2 separate regions of the Homo sapiens genome follow, and region 2 is linked to region 1. Evidence: fine-mapped expression QTL. A gene starts in region 1. The other region holds a variant in brackets. All regions are shown on one strand. Distances are from middle to middle. Region 1 holds the start of ARL4C (ARF like GTPase 4C). Region 2 has its middle 28 kb from the start of LINC01891.

Region 1 (9,118 bases):
ACTCGGCTAATTTTTATATTTTTAGTACAGATGGGGTTTCACCATGTTGGTCAGGCTGGTCTCAAACTCCTGACCTCAGATGACCCTCCCACCTTAGCCTTCCAAAGTGCTGAGATTACAGATGTGAGCCACCATGCCCAGCCCAGATAATGGCTTCTAAAATTTTATATCTATCTCAGGAATGTAATAGAGATCGACAATTATTAAGGAAGACTTGAAGCGGGGGAGCCTTTTAGCTTTTTGATTTAAATTTTTTTTCTTGGAGAAAACAGCAACAACAACAACCATACAAAACACTAGCAGTGGTGATCATTGGGAAAATAAAAACCTGAATTGTTTCAGCCCTGTTGCTTAGCAAAATAAAAAATAAGGCACCCTGATTTTTTTTTCCTTAGAATTATAAACTTGAATGGCCAATAGAGTAGTGGATCTTTTTTATTTTCAGGCTTTGGACCACTTGAATGAAGCAGGAGCTTGCAGGCATCACAGATTTTCATTTATCTCCCCCCAGATCTACCGTCCCATCCACAAAACTTCCCTTGGCACCAGTGTCTTAGTGGCTTCCACTGTTACGTAGCCTGAGTCGGCGTTTCTCCTGGAGTTGAGGGGGTTGCACTGCAGTGATGGTGACTGGTTTGTCTAGCATGCCCTGGGGCTTCTGGAAGTATTGGTTTGGTTCTTCCTTAAGGAACCTCTCCTGACAGATAAAAGGCTTCAATCCTGGACCACCTGGCTTCAGGAGCTTCAGGCCTTGTCACTTTGTCTGCCAACTGGCCTCCTTCATTCTCGACTCCCAGCCCCATTCTCCATTTACAGCTGCTCATGCCTGCCTGCGAATTAGATGCAAAAATCAGTTTTCTTCCCTTCTCTGGTCTCAGCTGGGTTTCCTGGATGCTCTTTTCTGATCTCTTCCACCAATTGTGATTCTTTGAACAGTTCTCCTAGTAAAGCGACTTCCTGCTCTGCCAGGTTCCTGGCTCCCCTCTCCCAGCAGATAACCCACAGGTCTCACAGACAAGACCCACACTGGCATCAATGGCTCTGAGCTCTGAGCCCCAAGCAAAGCACCCATGGGCCCCTGGCACTTTCTCAGTTTAACCAGTAGGGCTCTATTCCTGCATCTCCATAGAGAGAAGAAAAGCAGGGGGTCACTTATCCATCATTCATTCCATAACTATGGACTGAACATTTGCTAAGCACTAGGCCAATGTGCCTCTGTAGAGCCCTTCATCTATTATCCGAGAAGCTCAGCAGAGGGCACTCCTGTATTATAACAGTTAAGCACCGGGGCAGTGAACCTGAACCCAGAGTTCCACAGCAGGTCTGCAGTGAGAACATGCAAATAACCCCACACTTATGCGCGCACGCGCGTGTGTGTATGTGTGTACACGTGTGCCCATGTTCTGGTCTTTATTTACTCATCATATTCAAGAATAAATGGGATGCTCCCTTTTGCATTTTAGGTTATTAGCCTTACTCAAGCAAAGATAATAATGCCATGATATATTGCTCATCGGATTCACTCAAAAGTCATTTTAATTGGTGGCACATTTTATTTCAAAGCCCTTAAAGGGAAAAAAAAGAGAATATTTTAGGATGCAATTTCAAAATTACTGCCAAGTTATTGCCTTCTGTTTGCTTGAAATAATTGAGTTCTTCTCTGGATGCAGTCATCTTGATGAAGAATAGAAAGGAGAGGACCTGAAATGTCACTGCTGCTGGAAGAGGAATTCATCTCAGGCAGACACAAGTACATGCTATTCTTTGAAAAAATCTCTCCTTCTGATTAATTAAAATGAAGTAAGTGCCACAGTGCAGCCAATATTTTCCACTCAGTGGAATTTAGCCATGATGTATGTCCATGAAGAAATAGGCTCAAAGTAGGCCTTACATGTCTGATATGAGTGGTAAACATTACCTTCCTTTTCATAATTCCAGTGTTTTTCAATAAAAATCCACATTTGAAGGAAAGTTACCAGTCGACTCAACCAAATGATATTTTTATGTGTTAGAAGTTAAATTATCAACTGTAAAATTAACTTATCACCTGGTGAGTGAAATTAGCAGGTAGAGTGGTTGCTATTCAATTATGGTGAGTTGCTGTTTAATGGCTGTGTTCTGGAAGGCTCTATTAATGTCTATTAATCTGTTTTTTCCTACTGGACAGCAGACAGCCCTTTATTGCTAAACCCCATCATGGTGGTGCAAAATGTGGAGGCTGCAGTCAAAACCACTGAGGCTCTTGGTAATAATTAGCATAGCACCAAAAAGATACATCGGATACTTTACTAAAATATCTCCTTCCTACCACCTTAAAACTTAAAGCAAGTCTTGACTAGGGGAAAAGGAAGTAACACAAAGGTAATCTGTGGAAGCCGGATGGAGAGGCTTCCAGTCTGATCTGTCTCTTTCCAAATGTCCAGGTCCCAGGCTACTAAACCAAAGGCTCATCTTGGGTTGGGGCTCAGCCTCGGCCCTGCCTGTGGCAGAGAAGAAAGAGAAACAAGAAACAGTCTCATGAGAAGCTGGCTATCTATGGGGCAGGCATTAAAGAGAGTCAAGAAAATCACTCCAAAAACACAAAATCCTGTCTCCCCAGGGTTCCCAATAACGGAAACATCATCATTATGAATTATGCCAACATATGTTGTTTCTGTTGCCTCACTAGAGTTGCTCTTTTGGTGACAGATCCTGGATTCTTCTTGGAGAACCACCCTTCCCGATTTCAACCCCTGGGCCACATCCACTGGTGTGTTCCCTCCTCCTGGACTGCAGTCCTTGATCCAGGGTGCGTGCTCCAGGCTTTGGTTAGAGTTACTGGGAAAGAGTTGTACCTTTTCCTTTCCAGGATCTAAACCAAGGATGTGAGTCCAAGGCTGCCAGAAGGAAAAAGAATCAACACAGGGGAACACGGAGGAGGACTGGAGAGACACCTGCTCGAAAGACTCCTTTTGAGCTCCTGGGTCTAGCCATGCCTGAAGAGGACCTTTATCCTTAACTTTTCAGTGATGTCAGTGAATACATTTCCATTTTTATTTAAAATGAAGTAAGTGGCACAGTGCAGCCAATATTTTCTGTTGAACTCTATCCTTCGGGTGGCTCACTTTATTCCTCATTGAAGGAAATAGCGTGTGGGTAGAGTGGGATGTGAGGAAGAGGGCAGGCAGGTGCCCAGTTTTGTGCATACAGACCCTTGGTCCTGGAGCAGGCAGTGGGCCTCTAGGTTCTGCCTTAGCCGTCACGGGCGCCTAGGCCTTGTTACCTCACTGGACAACGTTGGGTGGAATGATAGGCAGGGTCCTTTCCAGCCTGATACTTCGTTTCCAGCCCCAAATCCACTCAGTAGAGTGGATGGTCGCTCCGGCTGCCACCTTGGGAATTCCAAGGATAGGGGTGGTGGTGGCTTGTCCTTCCTTCTACAGGTGAGGTCTTCTCACATGCTTTGGTACCAACGATATCATATGTCTTTTCGTGGTTTGTGAACAGAAGGTGATAAAGTATTTCTCTAAAATTCTAGCTTTTATTCATAAATTCTTAGCATTTTCATTTTCTTCTCCCTTGACCCCGTTTCCGTCGTTTCTGTCTCATAAGCTAGAGCTGGGAAGATGCGGTCGCCCATGCTGCGGCCTGCTGTCTCCTGCGGAGCAGCTCTCCCCAGATCTGTGTGTTTGCCATAATATACTCTCACTTTTCTCCGCACCCAGAGAGGATATACATTTGTTACATGTTTACAAACCAGAATAAAACCATTGAACTGAGGTGACAGGAGGTGGAACCCGTGGAATATCAGTGTTTGTAACCCACTGCGCCACCAGCTCCAAGCTGTAGACACATTTTCTTTCAGCCCCCGGGGCTGGTGTTGCCATTTCTGCGGAGTAGTTCACCTGCGGGCAGGTGGTTCTCAGTTCCCAAAGTCGGGTGGCAAGGGGTGCTCTCCCGAAATGCTGACGCTTCCCCTGGGATGTCAGCAGAGTCGATGCGGACGAAATGAGGTAGCCCAGGCGTGTCTGGGAGGGTGAGCTGTCCGAGCTACTTGGGGCAGGTAGGTCTTCTAATCCCCCATCGCGGCCTAGGTCCGACCCTGCCCCAACCGCCGCCACCGGGCAAGAAAGGCTGGGCCTCCAGGGTGCCCTGGGCACAGGCCTGGGCTCCGGAGGGCGGCGCTGGCCGGGTGCAGCCCCCTGGAACCCAGGCAGGAGGCGAGCCTGGGCGTCACTGGGGGCCGGGGCCGGCGACAGCCGCGGCGCGAGGGTGGGAGGGGACGCGCCCGGCTGGATCCAGAGCGCAGGCTGGCAGCTCACCGAGGCCAGCCCCGTCCCGTCCCTTCTGGGGTTTGGAGGCCCCAGCCTCGCCGCCCTCACTCCCCAGAGCGGCGCTCTCCCAGTCACCCTGGGGGCCGCCCTGCCCCGCCTCGCGCCCACAGAGCTGGGACCCCGGGACCCACTCCCTCAGGCAGGCTGCGTCGCCCACGGCTGCGGCCCGGAGGGGCAGGGGGCGGGCTAGGACCCGGGCGGGGATTCCGGGAGCCGAGAGCTATTTTTGCAAACGCGTCAGCCGCTGGGGAGGAAGAGCCGGCTCCGCGCCCATTGTGTCTGCGCGGCGCGGCGCGGGAGGGGCCGGGGGGCGGCGGGGGGCGGCGGGGACGCAGCGAAGCGCGCGAAAACGGCCGGCTGGGCGGGGAGGACCGCGCCTGACCCCCGGCGGCGGGCGGGGCGGGGCCCGGGGCGGGTCCGGGGGCGGGTCCGGGGCGGGGCGCGAGGGGGCGGGTCCGGGAGCTCTCCGGCCGCTGCAGGCTGGCGGCTGCTGCGGCGGCGCGGGGACTGTGAGGCTGCCGAGCGGACAGCGACTCCCGGGGAAGCCCGCGCTCCGGGAGCGGGAGCGGGAGCAGGAGCAGGAGCAGCGCCGTCCCAGGCCAGAGGCGAGCGCCGGGCGCCGGGAGAGCGGAGAGCCCGGGCAGCTGCCGGAGCGCGGGGGCGCGGCCCGAGGAAACCACAGAGCGAGCCCAGGCCTGGGGAGGGCGCCGAACATCTGAGGCGGCTTCGCGGGAGACAAAGCCGCGCGTAGAGACGCGATGCCCGCCGATCGCGAGCCCGGCCGGCGAGGGCGCGGGGACTGCGGCGTCTGAGCGCGCCAAGCCGTGCGCCCGCGGGGACGCCGAGCCCCGGGGCCGGTGCGGGCGGCGGCGGGCGGGGCCCAGGTGCGCCCGGCCGCGTCGGGCCCGTGACTGCTCGGGGGGCGGCGCCCTCCCGCCGCAGCCGCAGTGGCTGGCGCCGCAGCCAGGAGCCATGGGCAACATCTCCTCTAACATCTCGGCCTTCCAGTCCCTGCATATCGTCATGTTGGGCTTGGACTCGGCCGGCAAGACCACGGTGCTCTACCGGCTCAAGTTCAACGAGTTCGTGAACACGGTGCCCACCATCGGCTTCAACACCGAGAAGATCAAGCTGAGCAACGGCACGGCCAAGGGCATCAGCTGCCACTTCTGGGACGTGGGCGGCCAGGAGAAGCTGCGGCCGCTGTGGAAGTCCTACAGCCGCTGCACGGACGGCATCATCTACGTGGTGGACTCGGTGGACGTGGACCGGCTGGAGGAGGCCAAGACGGAGCTGCACAAGGTGACCAAGTTCGCCGAGAACCAGGGCACGCCGCTGCTGGTCATCGCCAACAAGCAGGACCTGCCCAAGTCGCTGCCGGTGGCAGAGATTGAGAAGCAGCTGGCGCTGCACGAGCTTATCCCGGCCACCACCTATCACGTCCAGCCGGCGTGCGCCATCATCGGCGAGGGCCTCACCGAGGGCATGGACAAGCTCTATGAGATGATCCTGAAACGCAGGAAGTCCCTCAAGCAGAAGAAGAAGCGGTAATGCGCCCGGAGCGACCGGGGAGCGAGCGAGTGCGTCAAGAAAGAATGAATGGATGGATGGATGGTTGGATGGATGGATGGATGGATGAGCGAGAACCCGCGCCCGCGAACAAAGAGCGAACCAAAGCGATGCTTCGAATTTTTAAAACGGAATCTCTGCACCCAAATGCAGGACTGGTGACTTAAGGAGCTGCGAAGTCTGATTTACCGGCCTACTCTCGACCTGCCCCCCACCCCCAGCTCAGGGGACCTTTTGTCTGAACGCCAGAGCTACTGACCAGGTCGGGGGGCCGCGGTGGGGAGTGGAAGAGCCGGTCCTGCTGTCCGCCCTCCCAGCCCCAGGTGGAAGGCTCAGTTGTCGGAAAGACAAAAGCGATTTCTTCCCACTCCTGCAGGGCCAGAAGTTCAGGCTGCCCCGCCTCCACTGGGGGATCGCACCTGTGAATTACCTGAGGTATGCATTTCCCAGAACCGTGGGCGTACCCACCTTGGGGGGCATGTTGGTTCTGGGGGGACCACCTCTCCTTGCATTCAGGGGCTGTGAAGCTGAGTAATTTTCGGTCACAGGGCAGGCCCCTGTTGAAATTTCATTTGTCCTGCTCTGGGCCCAAAGGTGGTGGTGGTTTGGGTCATCAGAGGACTGCCTGGGACGGTTCAGCGGGCACGGAGCGCTGTGCTGGCCTGGCTGGGGATGGCCGCGGAGGTGCCCTTTTCCTGGTGCTTTGTGGTGGCTGCAGAAGACCAGTTTTGTTGAGAACTGCTTTTCAGCCTGGAATCAGACATCTTCCAGATGGTTTGGACCCTGTCCATGTGTAGGTCATTATCACACAAAGAGACCAATAAAAATAAAAAAAATAAAAAAAAAAAAAGACGAACTATTGGAGGTGGTGGCCAATGATGCATTTACTGTTTGCAGGATAGTTAAAGGTGTTTAAAGGGTAAGGCTTTTGGTGTAAATGCTGGATGGGGTGTGTGTGTGTGTGGATATAGGGACCTCCCTCTGTACTGTGTACTGTGTAATCGGCATTAATACCTAGACTCATATGTATGGAATTTTAAATTCTCTTAGCCTACTGATTGGTTTGGATGAGCACACCAGCTGCAGGTGTGTGCTGAATTGCAAGATGGTATTTTTTTTTTTAACCAAGGGATGTCTCTTGTAATACTAACCGCGTGATAATGGGTTTTCAGACATGATGAAAAAAAAAAACTTTTACAAATGAATACTTACCTTAGAAATATTCACCTTAGGAAAAAAGACTTTGCTCTGCCCTTTTATATTCCTTTATGCTGCAAGTGGTGACATGTTCAGATTTCTAATTTGGTTCATTGTGGCCTATCTGGTTTAAGTCTTTCATTAAAAATGTCTCGTTAGAGTATTTGATGTCATGCACCAAAAAAATAAAACCCCACCTTGTTGCAAAAGCTGACCTCGTTGCATGGAATTAAAAGAGAAGGAAAAACACAAGGATGAAGTCTTTCCGAATTCATTCTTGTGGGAACTGGCCTTCGGAGCCAGCCAGCACTTTGGGCAAATGCAAACAACAATGAGTGCTTGAGATAAAAGAAAGTGTGACGTCATGGTCACTGGTACTCAGGCACTTCACAGTTTACTTGAAAGAGGCTTTGGAAAATAGATAAAGTGAAAGAAGAATAAATACATATTTTTAATAATGTAATTTTAAAAATCCTTTATAATCAGGACTGAGTCTTGGTTTGCAGAAGCTGTCACTTACCCTGAAACACAGTATCAAAAGGGAAACTTAAAACATACTGTTTGATTTTTTTATTTCCTCTTACAATCCATGTTTTCAGGTAGAATTATGACTTTCCCCCCATTGTTACACATTTCTTTACAAAGGAGGCCTGTAGAAATTGGACACGATCATGCTTGAGCATGTGAGTTAGTCAAATTATGAGTCCCTGCCTATTGTCCATTACACACCGAATGTTAATTTAAGAACCAGAGGCAGAAGTTCTGGCTTCCTGCTTGAAACCCAATTCTTATATGAAATTTTTTAAAAGCAGAAACCTAGCAGCCCATCTGCTTTTTCTCTTTTGTCGGTGTATTTGGTACCCCTCCAATGCTGGTCTTTTTGTAGAAACTCAGTAGAGAAAGTCTAGCTAAGCAGTGTTGAAAAGCCTGCAAGATTTCAGTTTACATATCGACAGCATATCCACTGATTTCTAAATGGGCTGGTCCCATCATCTGAAGATTCTGTATAGAATTATTAAAAAAAAAATCCATCTTTCTTTATTTTCTTCACATGCGACAATTTCTTAAGCACTTTGACATTTTGGTAGTTCCACACTATTGAGAGAATAATATATTTATTTTGTGACATTGCAGATGCCAAATACTGTAACCTTCTCATGATAACAATACTTAGGTTCAAGATCACTGTTCAAACCCTGTCATGCTTTAAAACTGATGCGAGATGATTTTGTTTTTTGCATAATCAATACTTAAGGGTGCAATCAACTGTTAGTAATTGTGCAGTAAAGTAAAGCCCTGTGGTGTATCAACTACTAGTTAAGAGTCTCAGTTGATTTCTGTAATGTTTGACCTAATAATAGCCCGTTTCGTCTCTGACCCAACAGAGGAAGCACAGATCAAATCACCTTGGAGTGGTCACCAGGGGGACAGGGAGCCCCCCACCAATGTATCAATGGGTGATTTATGATGCCTTCTGCCCTTTGGCGAGTGAATGGGTTTCCCATAGGGGAAGTTGGCCTCCCTCCGTGAGCTTTGGAAATGTTTTCTAATAGACACAGGGAGGCCAGTTCTGTTTCAGAGCAATTATCTTCCCAAATTCTCTGTTCTGGTGTTGGAACTGTGTGCCCTGGTTTCTGTTTTCCTTTCTACTGCTGTAATTCTCTGTCTCATCATCCTTCTCTTTTGTTTCCATAGCCTTTTATAATGCATATATGATGCTGTGAACAGAAATAAATTATTTATACAATCAAATGACTGGGGAGATTTTCTGTGGAATTTTTTGTTTGTTTTTTTGACATTGCTGGTATTCATTCTCTAGGCCTCTGCTGAGTGGGGGGATGGATCACAAGATGGTGTCTGGAGTTCTAGTCGGTATATCAGTCATCTCAATTTTTGGTGTCAGGGTCTAGCTCTGCCGTGAATGGTGGATCCGGATGCTAAAATGCAGGAGTCTGTATGCATTTGAGGCTCGTTCACTTGCGCCTGTCCTTCATCTGGGTGCCTTCCACTGCGTCATTTCAAATCCTTTAGGAAAATGG
Region 2 (9,118 bases), 71 kb after region 1:
CCTCAGCCTCCTGAGTAGCTGAGATTACAGGCACACACCACCACGTCCAGCTAATTTTTGTATTTTTAGTAGAGACAGGGTTTTGCCATGTTGGCCAAGCTGGTCTTGAATTCCTTACCTCAACTGATCTGCCCACCCCAACCTCTCAAAGTGCTAGAATCACAGGTTTGAGCCACAGTGCCCGGCCTTAATCTGTCTTTTGCGAGTTGATTTTTCAGTGAAACTTCAGAGGGCCAAAGGTTTCGCTTTGGCCCCTACAACATATATGCAAGCAATAATTATTTTGCATCTTTAATCCAGATCATTATTAACTTTAATTTTTGGAGTCTGCTTAATAGTGATGAAAACTTCCAAGAAAATTCTGATGGTCAGAGTGAAAAAAGATTAATGTGGGATTTTACTGGATATTTTTCTAACATTCATGCATGATTATGACCAAGATTATGGTTTTCATAATGAGGTTACTATGCCACATGTATATACTTTTTTTTTGTTTGTTTGTTTGAGGCAGTGTCTCACTCTATTGCCCAGGCTGGAGTGCAATGGCATGAACTCAGCTCACTGCAGCCTCCACCTCCCAGGTTCCAGCAATTCTCCTGCCTCAGCCTCCTGAGTAGCTGGGATTACAGGCATGTGCCACCACACCCAGCTAATTTCGTATTTTTTGTAGAGATGGGGTTTCACCATGTTGATCAGGCTAGTCTCGAACTCCTCACCTCAGGTGATCCGCCCGCCTCGGCCTCCCAAAGTGCTGGGATTATAGGTGTGAGCCATCGTGCCCGGCCTATCTATATAATTTCTAATATTATCCTTCCTTCTCTGATGTAAACCAAGTAGAACAGTGGGCACCAAAGCACAGTGCATGGCCTAGCCCCTTCATTGACGGAGGGATGGAGAGCAAGTCACTTCTCTCCTGTAGCTGGGGAGATAAAACAGGGAAGACCAAGAGGACTCAGGGCAGGCAGGCCTGGAAGCCTACTGAGGAATAACAGTAATTATACTCAGCATTAATATTATGTATTGAGTTCTTCCTACACATAACGCTAAGTGCTTTACAGATCTGATCGCTGAAACAGCCCTGTGAGGTGGGCATCCTTATCTCCAGTGTACAGAGAAGAATCTGAGGCTCAAAGAGGCTGAATCATGGCCCCACGTTGGAACAGTCCTTGGAGGCAAGAGCACAGCTAAGTGCAGGCCTGCCTGGATCTCCAGCTCAGCTGTCAGACTATGCAAAAGGCCTCCAAAAGAGAACAGAGGCTTTGTGTTTGCACGTGGACTAGCACAGCTCACCAGGATCAAAGGCCAAGGAGTCTCTGGCAGGGATTAGGCCATCCCCCACCTACCAGCAGGTATTCCCAGGAAACCATTGAGGAAGCAGGAGACAGCCAGGCCAAGCCGGCCCATCGAAGGGCAGACATGCTAGAGTCTCTGTTCTTTGGAAGGCACAAGCAAAGCGAGCCTGTCACCTGCTGACTTGGAGGAGAAAGGGAGAGAGGAACCCAGATAGTGTGGAGGCTGCAGTGGATCCACTTAGTGGGCGATACGTGTCTCTCCAAGGGGGCTACATTTGGAAGGGGCCACAGTGCAGCGGGCGAGAGTGCTGCATTTCTGTGTGATGAGTTTGAGGCAGGCATCCACATAGACTTGTACCAGAGGCACCTGAAGATGCAGACAGGGAACTGGGACACAGGTTTCCATAAGGATGAGGATGGATGAGGATGTTTCTTCCCGCCCAAGTCTAGTCCCCTCCACCTCCCACCATTTGGCCTCAGAGGGCCAGCTTCCTGAAAATAATTTCCAAACGGACCCTGACCCACTCTTTCTTAGTCCTTGCCTTCAAGAATGTGGGGACCATCTGTGTCAGGCCAGAGTCTACAGTGACGGATGTTGTGATTTGTTGCTCCAGGAACGGGGCTGCATGTGGAAGCCCTTGCTGGTTTCTGTGTTGAGCGGTTTACTGCAAAGTTAGCTCTTACCTCCCATGCTCAAAGGCGATCGACCAGCTTGAAGTGGACTGATGACTATTTAACCTCTTAATAGACTTCAGACGGACAACGGGCTTTCCCTGAATACCTGGCACACGGGGAATATGCTGTGAAATTTGCTGAGTGAGTGAGTGGGCAAATGAAAACATGGTCTCCTTCTACTTCCAGTTTGAAAGGAAGTTAATCTAACTCGGGTGGTGTCCATGAGATGTGAGCATGCCTCTCTGTGCTTTCAAAAGTTCCACAAAACAGGTCAGGCACGGTGCTCACGCCTGTAATCCCAGCACTTTAGGAGGCCAAGGCGGGCGGATCACCTGAGTTCAGGAGTTCAAGACCAGCCTGGCCAACATGGCGAAACCCTGTTTGTACTAAAATTACAAAAATTAGCCGGGAGTGGTGGTGGGCGCCTGTAATCCCAGCTACTTGGGAGGCTGAGGCAGGAGAATCGCTTGAACCCGGGAGGCAGAGATTGCAGTGAGCCGAGATTGCGCCACTGCACTCCAGCTTGGGTGACGGAGCGAGACTCCGTCTCAAAAAACAGCAACAAAGAAACCTTCCACAAAACAAATCCTAAATTGGATTCTATGTCTCCAACAATAGGGAAATGATTAAGTAAATAACGGAAAGAGTTATACAACATTTTTTCAGGAATTTTTAGTGACAGTTAAAAACTTATTAAGTAAAAAAGTCAAGAAATAGATTTTAAATTACACTCTGATATCAAGTATGTAAAACACTTATGCTGAGAAAAAGACTGGATATAGCAGAAGGGTGGTCACCGATAAGGGGTGAGGCTTCCGGAGGATCGTGCGAAGTTTTCTGGGTACTTCCTGGTGTGACGCTGCATAGTGATGTGGTGAAAATGGCAAGTTCCTGGAGGGCTTGAGGTGGGTGGAAGTTTGCATTCTCAGGGAAATGCTTGGAATAGTCGTTGATTGGATGGTTCTCTACATTCTTCAGATTCCTCTGCAGAGTGCATTTCTTTCTCCCTCTCTCAAAGTGTGGATTAAATTGTTTTGAGCTGGTTTTGTCTGCAGCAATTAGTTATCTTAACTAAAGCTCATAAAAAAACAACAACAGAAAGGTAACATGAATGAAGGCCATGTCCTAAAGTTGTACAGGAAACAGACTAGGGAGCAGAGAAACGGGTGTGGGGCGGAGGGGAAAGGAAGGTGGGGGTGGAAGGTGGGGTGGAGGAGTCCAGCCTTCCCTTCCAGCAAACAGTAAGCAGCTTTGAGAAATGGGGAGGGGGCAAACTGATCTGAAATGAAGAGGATGGCCTCAAGGATGGCCCAGCTAGAGAGAGACCCACCATAAGTACTGCTCTAAAACCTTGGCCACTCCAGCTCTGGCCCCGCCATCAGCAACTGCTGGGTGTGTTAGAGACCCAGGCTCTCAAGCCCCAGCCCCAGGGCCCCAGAGCCTGCTTGTCAAAGGATTCTCCCTCGGTGAATTTGTGTGCATCAAATGAGTTTGATGCAACCCTTTCTGAGAGAGGGGGTTTCAGGCTCTGCCTGCCTGGAGGGTGAGAGGAAGTGGCAGCTCAGAAAAATCTAGAAGGGAGAGACGGGGGTCAGAGGATTTGCCGGACAGCCTGGCACCCAGAAGCAGCAGTGGCTGGCTCATGGTGCAACCCAGGGAGCCATGTGGACGATGGGGTCGATTGTTGACATCAGCACTGAGACGAACCCACCCAGCCTCATGTTAAACAATCAAATCTTAAATGATTGAGAGGTGCTTCACACTAATCTTGGCTCTTGAACAGTGGGGGCTGTTCCATAGGCTCAGTGTAATCAAGAATCATTCTTGCTCTGCTTCCGAGGGAGAAGGCGTTCACCTCTGCATTAATTTCAGCTGTGTGGGGAGACGTGCTCCCTGAATTTGGTTCCATCCTGAGTGGGAGGGTTGCTAGTCTCAGAAGCCTCTTCTAAGTTTCTCTTTTGA[C/T]ATCTGCTTTGGGCAACAACATGGCCACTGCTTCCTAGAGAAATGGGAAGAGAAACCCTCACAGTTCAGAGGGTGAGAGTGGCTGATCCCTCCCCCATCTGTTGACACTCCTGGAAACTTTTGGGGACTTCTGGGGATGGGGCAGAGGGGCCTATTGCAGAGGGTACATCTTCCCACAGGTTAGATGTTGACGCTCCAGCTGCCCCTGGCCACCGATGGCAGATGATTTCCTGAGCCAAGGATCCTTTCTTGGATTCTGGGTCTCCCTCACTTAGGAAGTAGAAGAGAAACTTTCATTTCCAAAGTGTTACTCTGCCATGAAATCCATCAATGTGGAGTGGCAGAACAGAGAGCTCAGCAGTTCCATTATCTGATGGAGCTCAGACAGTGCAGAAAAACAAAGTGTTTCCCTTCTCAGTGTGTGTGTGTGTGGCTTTTTTTTTTTGGGGGGGGGGTGGTCATTGTTAAACTGACACAAGGTGACCTGATAGGGGAAGGAAGATCTGTGATTCATTAACACTCTCTCCCTTCATCTTTGTAATCGTCATCATTTTCATTTCTTCCAGCAGTCTCAGGACCTGCCTCCAAAGGCAGGTCCTGAGGGTTCACAAGAAACCTAGAGCTGGGCGAGCTTGCTTCCCTCCTGCTGGGTTCAGCCCTAACTGCCTCTTCCTCAGCCCCGCCCTGCACACCTGCAGTTAGGGCACCGAGGCAGCCCTAACGCTTCTGAGGAAGTGGGTTTTGTGGGTAGGTGGAGTTCTATGTCCCAGAGGGTGAGGAACTGGGCACCACACCCATCCCTGTATGCAGTGGGTAGAGTGGCCTAGAGGGCCAAACCTGGGAGGAGGGTAGGGAGGACCCTCTCTGGCCCATCCTCTGCTTCTTCCCGCATGCCCCTGAGGGCTGCGTTGATGTCCTCATTTCCATATAACTCCAGTGACACAGAAGCTCCTTGTGAAGTGAGCTTTCCTGCCTAATTGAAAGACACCAGCAGAACATGACTCAGGGTGGCAGTCGTCCTGCCCTGGCACTAGGCAGGTCACCCAAACCTCCTTGTTCCTCCAGATGAAGATGCTAAAGCCTGGCCAGGTGAAAGAGGAAGAGGCAGGTCACCCAAACCTCCTCATTCCTCCAGAAGAAGATGCTAAATCCTGGCCAGGTGAAAGGGGAAACTCAACCCCAAGGAGTCAGGTCCAAAGGGACGGGTCCCCAGGGACTAACTGGGACAGGGGTCTGAAGGGACCACCAGCAGGTCAACCCACCCACCAGCCTCACCCGTGCTGTGTCCCCAGACATGAAGCCAAGAGAGCAAGTTCCCTAAATTCCCTTCCCACCTCTGCCACGACCAGCTGGGTCTTATAGTCACTCCCTGCCCGGCCTCATTCCCAATAAAACCCAACCACCAGGGGCCCCGCCACTGGCTACCACTTAGCTCGCTCTCACCCCCATCCCTGTGACCTCCCCCAGAATCTCCTATGGCTTTTCCCACCACCCTCCAACCATTACCAGTGAGGCTTGGGCCCAGGGTGTGTCCGGGCCTCTCTTGCCACCCACCACCCTTCATCTTTGTAGCCCGCTTTCCTGCAAGAGGGAATTCTCTCTTCCCATTACAACAGGGCCTGTGGCTTGAGCACCCAGGGTGCATGTGTACAGACTTGGGGAGCAGGGGCTCAGCTCCAGGCACTTCTAGGACCCTGGACCCTGAAATTTATATAGTGTTCCTTTATCTGGTAGCTCATGTCACTCATTAAGAGTTGTTCCATTTCTGGTGGGGTGCGGTGGTTCACGCCTGTCATCCCAGCACTTTGGGAAGCCGAGGCAGGCAGATCACCTGAGGTCAAGATGAGCCTGGCCAACATGGTGAAACCCATCTCTACAAAAATACAAAAATTAGCTGGGCATGATGGCAGGTGCCTGTAATCCCAGCTACTCAGGAGGCTGAGGCAGGAGAATCGCTTGAACCCGGGAGGCAGAGGTTGCAGTGAGCCGAGATCGCGCCATTGCACTGAGCAACATGACTAAGCAAGACTGTCTCAAAAAAAAAAAAAAAAAGAGTTGTTCCATTTCCTAATTTTGAAGGGTTTCATTTTACAAAGATTTGGAATGTGTATTTCTCCCAGAACAATAATTTCTTTTTATTTGTTGAAATGGTGTAAGCAGAAGTGTCATGCTAAATGTCTGTACATGGTTTCCATTCTCTTATGTAAACTCCATTTTTATAAATAGAGAATTCAATTTGATTCAACTTTAAACAGATGCTACAGTTAATTTTGAGCAATTGTTAATATGTGTGGGAACATGCTTTGAAAATAAGTCCGTGATCCCAATCTGTGCTCTGAGTGTTTTCATTGAATTGAGCACAGAAGTCCAATTCTGGAGAGATGAAAACACAACAAAGCCAAGATGATTTGAAACTGGCCTTATCTAAAGTTTTGTTCCTTTAAAAAATCAAAACGTCATTTATTTTCCTTCCACCCCAGCCCCCGTCTTCCCAGCTTTGATCTTTCTACTTGTCAGAATATTGCATCAATGACACTGGAAATATTTATTCAACAAATACCTATTAAGCCCCAATTAGAGGCTGGATGTTGCATTTGGTCCTGAAAATTAGACAAATACGTTCCCTGTTCTCAAGGAGCTTATAGGCCTGGGTAAGGTAATTGCAGACACCTGAAGTATAACATACACCTGAAGACTCTAACAGGGACACCTATCTCCCGAAAGGATCGAGGCATGGCCCTCCAATTAGGTTGACTTCAAAGTGTGAGGGGAGCCCAGGGGATTTCCAGTCCTAGGAAAAACCTTCACAGCCACCAAGAACTTTCATGTTTTAGTTTTCAATTAAGCCCTTTCCTTACATAAATTTTCTTCTGGATTCAAAGTCATTCAAAATGATGATTCACTCTACCTGGCAAAATATGCCGTCTTTAAAATTATTAATATAATTGTATCAGTTTTCTATTGCTGCTGTAGCAAATTACCACAAATGTGGTGCTTAAAACAAACCAAATTTATTATCTTAGAGTTCTGAAGGTCAGAAGTCTGGCATGAGCTAAAATCAAGGTGTTGGCAGGGCTGTGTGTCCTTTTAATATTTTTTATTTTTGGTGGCCTTAACAGAGGGTTGATATTTTGTCACATCTCATCGACCTGTCTATTATTATTATTATTTTTTGGTGGGGGATGGGGACAGGGTCTCGCTCTGCACTACAGGCTGCAGTGCAGACAAAATTGTGGCATGGCTCACTGCAACCTCAACCCCCCTGGGCCCAAGTGATCCTCCTACTTCGGCCTTCTGAGTAGCTGGGACCCCAGACATGCACCACCATGCCTGGTTAGTTTTTTATTTTTGTAGAGTCAAAGTCTTACTATCTTGCCCAGGCTGGTCTCAAACTGCTGGACTCAAACAATCCTCCACCTCAGCCTCCCAAAGTGCTGGGATTACAGGTGTGAGTCACCGCGCCCGCCCACCTGTCTCTTCTGCCTCCTTCCGCATTTAAGGGCCCTAGTGATGGTACACCTGCATAACCCAGGTGATTTCCCTATTTTAAGGTCAACTGATTGACAACCCTAATTCCAGCTACAAACTTAATTCTTTACCATGTCATATAACACATTCATAGGTTCCTGAAATTAGGACATGGACATCTTTTGGGGGCAGGGTGGGGGGATGCCATTATCCTGCCATCTACAAGAATATAGTTGTAATTATGTGACGTGCTGACCTCCTGTCTCAGCATCATGCTGTGCGGTGCAGACCTGAAGCTGTGAGCACACACCCTGTTGACGGAAGCAGCCGCTCTCCTATGTGATGAGGCTGTGGTTATCATTCTCCTCATCCTGATACCTCTTTTCTCTCACTGGGGATCCCTGCCAGCTTCTGCAACACAAAACTTCATTTTTATCTCCTAGTCTATTTGTTTTGTTCCCTAATAATGTCGGGTTTTTTTCTATGGTTTCTAAAATTCTTGCCACTGTTCAGCCATTTTTATACTTCTTGGAACTTTTTGAATTTTGAATAAGTAAATAAATGCTCAAATATGCATCAAACTCTGTAAATAAACAGAAGCAATTACAAGTTTTAGAAATAGTCTTATGCATTATGGTAAACTCAAACTCAGTGACGTGTTTGAAGTTACTTGTCATAGAATTCCTCAGCTCAGATTTAAGCTCAATTCACATATACAGTCCCTACCTTCTGGTTAATGTCAACATTCATGAATAGGCGTGGCCTTTGCAGGAGTGAGCTCAGGGAACCATGCTCCATGAAGCTCAGGGAAGCATACCTGAGTGTCCTATGCATGGATGACAAAAATCATTCCTTCCTTCCTAACATAATTGACCTTTACACTTTATGAGTAATGGTTACATGAAAAACACACCCAGCTGAAGCTTGGGGAAATATATCATGACTCACTCATCCATTCCACAAATACTAATGCAAGCTGTTGGCATGCTTGTATCTTAATATCAGGGCCACGTGCTTCTTTGCTGTCCGGGCTCTATCTGATCTCAAGGAACAGAGACAGCATGGCAGAGGTTACCATAGTTAATGGTGTTCAGCTTGTTTATCTTAAAGATATCTACAGGTAGAAAGAAAAAAAAAAAGGAAACCAGTATAAATGCTCCTGTAGAGGCTGCACACAGTAGAAATCAGTCCAACCTCATATAAACTGATTGACATATAGGCTTAAAGTTGGTCCTCATAACCCAGTTATCATGGGAAGCCACAGAAGTCCATGTCTCCTGCTTGCTATCTGAGCACACTTCCATTTAGATGAGTTGGTACTCGCCGGGTGCGGTGGCTCATGCCTGTAACCCCAGCACTTTGGGAGGCTGAGGCAGGTGGATCACGGGGTCAGGAGTTCGAGACCAGCCTGACCAACATGGTGAAACCCTGTCTCTACTAAAAATACAAAAATTAGCCAGGTGTGGTGGCGCTCACCTGTAATCCCAGCTACTCAGGAGGTTGAGGCAGGAGAATCCCTTGAACCTGGGAGGCAGAGGGTGCAGTGAGCACGGAGATCACACCACTGCACTCCAGCCTGGGCGACAGAGTGAGATTCCATCTCAAAAAAAAAAAAATGACTTGGCAATCCCCTATCTTCACTTCTGCATGTGCCACTACCCACTAAATACAAATACATTATTGCTCAAGCCATGTCAAGCGGATATTTGCTGTTATTTGCA

Evidence for each region. PIP is the estimated chance that this variant, and not a neighbour inherited with it, causes the effect.
Region 2: its variant is fine-mapped to the expression of ARL4C in monocytes (TOPMed, PIP 0.98).

What each region holds. Positions count from the first base shown.
Region 1 is chr2:234,492,754-234,501,871 of GRCh38, reverse strand. It overlaps ARL4C (ARF like GTPase 4C), which reads left to right and starts at 4,791. Exons shown (of 2, transcript NM_001282431.2): 1 at 4,791-5,860; 2 at 6,036-8,831. The coding sequence starts at 5,286. The coding sequence ends at 6,066. RefSeq lists an enhancer at 3,756-4,529 and silencers at 4,714-5,003, 5,114-5,213.
Region 2 is chr2:234,421,640-234,430,757 of GRCh38, reverse strand. No RefSeq gene overlaps it. Among named protein-coding and RNA genes, the nearest start is that of LINC01891, 28 kb to the left of the region's middle. RefSeq lists enhancers at 1,881-2,452, 2,102-3,301. The variant C/T (reference allele first, on the strand shown) is at 3,930.